Regions from separate parts of the Homo sapiens genome. Here region 1 is linked to region 2. Evidence: fine-mapped expression QTL. A gene starts in region 2. The other region holds a variant in brackets. All regions are shown on one strand. Distances are between the middles of the regions. Region 1 overlaps ENDOV (endonuclease V). Region 2 holds the start of RNF213-AS1 (RNF213 antisense RNA 1).

The links.
Region 1: its variant is fine-mapped to the expression of RNF213-AS1 in unexposed skin (GTEx, PIP above 0.99).

The regions. Positions count from the first base shown.
Region 1 is chr17:80,435,437-80,438,343 of GRCh38, forward strand. It overlaps ENDOV (endonuclease V), which reads left to right. Exons shown (of 10, transcript NM_173627.5): 10 at 697-2,650. The coding sequence ends at 707. Among named protein-coding and RNA genes, the nearest start is that of MIR4730, 17 kb to the left of the region's middle. The variant C/T (reference allele first, on the strand shown) is at 1,240.
Region 2 is chr17:80,413,493-80,416,399 of GRCh38, forward strand. RNF213-AS1 (RNF213 antisense RNA 1) reads right to left here and starts at 1,676. Exons shown (of 2, transcript NR_029376.1): 1 at 1,437-1,676. It overlaps ENDOV (endonuclease V), which reads left to right and starts at 1,675. Exons shown (of 10, transcript NM_173627.5): 1 at 1,675-1,758; 2 at 2,158-2,329. The coding sequence starts at 1,703. RefSeq lists an enhancer at 2,108-2,197.

The DNA.
Region 1 (2,907 bases), 22 kb after region 2:
GTAGCCAGTTGTCCCAGACCATTTTGCTTTGTTGTTGAGACAGGGTCTCGCTCTGTTGCCAAGACTGGAGTGCAGGGGTGTGATCATGGCTCACTGCAGCCTCGACCTCTTGGGCTCAAGCAATCCTCCTGGCTCAGCCTCCAGAGTAGCTGGGACTACAAGCATGTGCCACCATGCCTGGCTAATTTTTTTTTTTGAGACAGAGTCTCGCTGTGTCGCCCAGGCTGGTGTGCGGTGGCGTGATCTCGGCTCACTGCAAGCTCCGCCTCCCGGGTTCACGCCATTCTCCTGCCTCAGCCTCCTGAGTAGCTGGGACTACAGGCGCCCGCCACCACGCCCAGCTAATTTTTTTTTTTTTTTCAGTAGAGACGGGGTTTCACCGTGTTAGCCAGGATGGTCTCGATCTCCTGACCTCGTGATCCACCTGCCTCAGCCTCCCAAAGTGCTGGGATTACAGGCGTGAGCCATTGTGTCCGGCCTAGTTTTTCAAGATTTTTTTGTAAAGACAGGGTCTCACCATGTTACCCAGGCTGGTCTCCAACTCCTGGGCTCAAGCTTTCCTCCCACCTCGGCCTCCCCAAGTGCTGAGATTACAGGCGCGAGCCACTGCACCTGGCCCATTTCCACTTCCTCCTTTCCACTCTGAACGCCTTTTATTTCTTTTTCTTGCCTCATTGCTCTGGCTGGAACGTCTAGCACTTTGTTGAACGTGGTGGTGAGAGCACACGTCCTCGTCTCATTCCTGATCGAACGCGGTGGTGAGAGCACACGTCCTCGTCTCGTTCCTGATCGAACGCGGTGGTGAGAGCACACATCCTCGTCTCGTTCCTGATCGAACGCGGTGGTGAGAGCACACGTCCTCGTCTCGTTCCTGATCGAACGTGGTGGTGAGAGCACACGTCCTTGTCTTGTTCCTGATCTTAAGGGAACGTTTGCAGTCTTTCACCACTAGATGTGATGTGAGCTGTTAGATTTTCAAGGATGCTCTTCATCCAGCTGAAGACGGTCCCTTCTAGTCCTAATTTGTTAAGTGTTTTTATCCTTAAAGGGTACTGGATTTTGTCAAATGCTTTTCTGGCCTCTATTGAAAAGATCCTGTGTTCTTCTGTGAATATGAGGTGTTACATTGATTGATTTTCATATGTTGAGCCAGTTTCCATTTGTGGAATACATCTAACTCGGTCATGGTGTATAATCCATTTACTCTGCTGCTGAATGTGATTTGCTTGTATTTTGGTG[C/T]GGATTTTTACATCTGTATTTATAAGGGATATTGGTCTGGTGTTTTCTTATGATGTCTTCCTTTGGTTTTGATATCAGGATAATATTAGCCTCATAGATTGGGTTAGGAAATGTTCTCTCCTCCGTTTTTTTTGGAAGAGAGAGATTGGTGTTAATTCTTGCTAGAACCTTTGGTAGAATTTGCCAGTAAGCCTATCTGGTCTTGGGTCTTTGGGAGGATTTTGATTCGATTCAATCTATGTATTTGTTATAGATCGTTCGGATTGTCCATCCTTGAGTCAGTTGCTAGCTTGTGTGTTTCTTGGAGTTTTTCCGTTTCGTCCATGTTATCTCATCTGTTGGCATACCGTCGTTCACGGGATTTTATTGATGTGTGTGAGGTCTCTGAGAACGTCCCTGCCTTCACTCCTGCTTTTAGTCACTGGCATCTTCTTTTAACTTGGGCCATCTGGCCGTGCATGGTTTTGGGAGAGTCCTCCTTGACTCTGCAGATGCTGAGCAGTGATCTGGCTGGGAAAGGGGACCAGGAGTGCAGGGCACCTGCTGAGGACTCACCTAAGCCCAAGAGTCAGAGAGTCGGAGCTCCAACCACATCTGCCTGCATGCCTTTCCCAGGCTCTCCCCAGGCGGACAGCCAGCACCCCCTCCCCAAAGACCGGGCAGTTCCTGACCAGCACCCCACCAAGTCCTCAGTAAGGCCTGTCTTTGGGGGAGCAGGGTTTCAGGAGGACAGTGGGGGTGGTGTAGAACTCATGGCTGGCGGTTCCGGGCCTCTCAGGAAGCTTTGCCACTGGGCTTGGGGTTAAGTGGGTGTGGGGCTCCGAACCCTAAATGGGTGAGAGTTGAAATGAAAGCGGCACCTGTAGTCCGTTTGGGGTGCAGGTGTGTGCCAGGGGTCTTCAGCCCCGGCTGATGGCCACATGAACCACATGAGGAGAGGCAGGGCGTGTCAGCAGCAAACCTAAGTGTGTGCTCATTTCTGTGGGCCCTTACTCTGTGACACTGCAGCTCTCCAGAGAGACGCTTTGAAAACAAAACAGGAAAGAACACACGGCCCCGCGTCTGTTGCCTGAGTCACTGTATTCCTTAAAAGGTGAAGGACCCTGGTCCTTGGCTTTTCGTGCACATGAGAAAATGTTGGCCAAGGTTAGCGATTATGCTTCTGTAATCTGTAACCAGAAGTGCTCTTATGCCCAAACCTTGATGTGATTCTGCTGTAATGTAACTTCGGAGCCAGCTGGATGGATGTGACTGTGCAGGTCCTGAGCCCCGGCCCCCGTAACCAAGCAGTGGGCCGAGACACTGAGCCGGGCAGTCAAACAGGAGCTCTCTAAGGCTGCTCCCGGGCTGGGACCTGGGTCTAGGATTCTCAGTAAGACCTTTGAATAAAACTAACTTGAATTCTTCAAAAGCTTGATTTTTTTTCTTCAGTCAAAAGCATCTTGCAGAGATGCCAGCCCACCGTGGGGATGTGCAGTGGCAGCCCTGAGCTGGCCCAGCCCCTTTCCCCAAGGCTGCTCTGGGGAGGGGGGCGGGTTTGGGGGAGTAGAGTGCAGGGGATTGAAGCAGGGGAAACAGGGTGTGAGGGTCAAGGGGGGCTAGAATTGGGGGAGCAGGTTCACGGGCCAGGGGCTGGGCAGGGGTGGGCCTGGGCACCTGGTAGGTGGG
Region 2 (2,907 bases):
TTGTCTGCGGCTTGTCCTGCTACACTCTGGTGGGAAAGACACCGCAGCAGGGGAGCAGGGTGCGCAGGGTGCAGTGGGTGACGCTCATTCGCTGAAAACTGACCCTGCTTTCAAAGCCTTGTCAGTTCCCAAAGCTGTATGAAGCCTTTCCTGAGCCTCAACCTCTAGAGTCTAATTTCATCCTCTGTATTTTCCCCTTTGTTAGTCCAAACTGCGTCATTTTGTAAGCCCCTTTCCATTTTGTAGACCTTGGTCAAAGTGAAACATTCCACGGGGGTTCGAGCCATGAGAAACAGCCTGCCTCTTAACATATTCTGCTGGGACAAAGCGCCAGGAACACCACATTCTGCCGGAACCACCTCATCCTGGGAACACGTTAACATCTTCCCGGACAGCAAGCCATACTGCCTAGATCCCTCCTGCCCAGGCCTATGAGTACCCCAGCCTGTAATCGCTGGTGGGCTCTGGCATTAAGCTGGCCCCCGACAGGTGTTTGCAATACACCTGTGTTGCTGTAGAGCCGCCCGCGCGCCGGCAATCTCACTGTGCGTCATTCTTTAACCTTCACCTTCCCTTCAAAACCTAACACCCTTGACGTTTATATTCAGGCTATTATATATACATACACACATACACCCTTCTGAATCCTCCCAGGAGAATATAAAACCATGGGTTAAACTGCTACACTTCAGCTTCAGTGGCTGCCTTTCAGTGCTTCAAATACACCAACCTCTTTCCCACCCCGGGACCTGCACGAGAAAGCTGCTCCACTCACCCGCCGTGCTCTTTCACTCACCCTTCAGGTGTCTTCAATATCGCCTCTCAGGCCTTTCCCAACCACCGGTTTAAAGTCGGCTCCCCACAAATAAATACATATTCTCCCTCACAGTACTTCGCACAACACCTGGCACAGCGAGAGCACTGAACCAACACTCATTCAATGAGGAACACGAGGTAAGAACCAAGACCCCCCAAGGTCGCCGTACTTTGTCTGGTAGGAGAAGCTTTCTGCCCAGCAAGGTCCGACCCAGATGAAACCCCGTCCAAGTCTGCAGCACCCCCGTGAGTCCAGCCCGCTAAACTGTGAAGAATTTAAATACACGACACCTGCCCTCAAAAGCTTGAGGGCACCCCTGAGCTGCCATCGAGGTGGGGGCGTCAACGACAGGCGCTCAGTAAGTGCTCCTGAGGCAACTGCCGGGCTGTCCTGGACCTGGTGAATCCTTTCGGGGTTCAGCAAAGGCGGACGCTGACCGGGCCAAGGAGTGGGACCTGCAGTGCTGGACCACCCTTTTCCAAGCGCAGAAGTGCCGTGCCCGCCGGCTCTCAACAGGGCAAGAGGCCCCTCTCGCCGTGCAGAGCGCAGCGCTTGCGGCGGGGACAGCAGAGGCGGGACGGGCGTCACGGAGTTCCCGGGTCCTCGCGCGGTCACTTACCTGGCCTCAGCTATCCGCTGAAAAAGGGGCGGACGGCCTCCCGGGATCCGAGCCGATATCGCGCGCGGCGCCGCGGGGCAACCTGAAGCCGTGTGCGTGCGTGTGCGTTCACGCAGGGGCTCACCCAGCGGCCACGGGCTTCTGAAGACCCGGGTGGGAAGTGCGGCCCGGGAAAGCGCAAGCGTCTCCATGGCAACGAGGGCGGACGGCGTCAGAGCGAGTCGCTTCCGGAAGTGACGTGCGGAAGGGGTGCCCGGGACGAAGCCATGGCCCTGGAGGCGGCGGGAGGGCCGCCGGAGGAAACGCTGTCACTGTGGAAACGGTAATGCTGTCAGGCGACGCGCAGGAGGCGGGGGCCGAGGCCGGGCGGCCCTTCGCGGACCCTCCGAGCTCATAGTCTTCAGGCTGTGGAATCGGAGCTGCCACCGCCCGAGACTCCAAAGCAAAGCCCAGTTTCCGGCGCGGAAGCGGAGGGATCTCAGGAATTGTAGTCCGCGGGGTGGGCGCGGTTCTCGCTTCCGGCCAGTTTGTCTGGCCTGCGCTTGCGCGGGTCTCCGCCGCCTGGGCTCCTAGGGACTGTGGCCTCGGCGGTATGTCCCTTGCTTTCCCTTGAAGCGGGAGAAGACCCGGCAGAGGCGCTCTGTCCGCTGCAGCCGCGCGGGTGGAGGAGGCAGAGTCTGAGGTGTGACCCCGACCAAGTTTGACGCTTCTGTCCTCCTAGGGAGCAAGCTCGGCTGAAGGCCCACGTCGTAGACCGGGACACCGAGGCGTGGCAGCGAGACCCCGCCTTCTCGGGTCTGCAGAGGGTCGGGGGCGTTGACGTGTCCTTCGTGAAAGGGGACAGTGTCCGCGCTTGTGCTTCCCTGGTGGTGCTCAGCTTCCCTGAGCTCGAGGTAACCTGGGAGGACGCCGAGCTCGAGGCGGGCCCCTCGGTGGGCTCGGGCGTGCGGTCTCCGGGACAGGGAGCAGTGCAAGCGTAGAACCCGGCTTCTCGTTTTGTAGGATGTCATTAATAGTCTGGGGAGTTGGCCGGGCGCGGTGGCTCACGCCTGCAATCCCAGCACTTTGGGAGGCTGAGGCGGGGGAATCACCTGAGGTCGGGAGTTCGAGACCAGCCTGACCAACATGGAGAAACCCGGTCTCTACTAAAAATACAAAATTAGACGGGTGTGGTGGCATATACCTGTAATCCCAGCTACTCGGAAGGCTGAGGCGGGAGAATCGCTTGAACCCGGGAGGCGGAGGTTGCGGTGAGCCAACATCACGCCATTGCACTCCAGCCTCGGCAACAAGAGCGAAACTCCATCTCAAAAAAAAAAAAAAAAAAAAAAAGTCTGGGGAGTCTTGGAAGGGAAAAAAAGGCAAAAATTAAGGGAATTCTGTGACTATTAAGAATCAGCTCATGAGCTTTATCTTCAAGTCTGATTGTTATCTTGGGTTCTTCATCTCAGTGACCTGTCCACCACGCTCC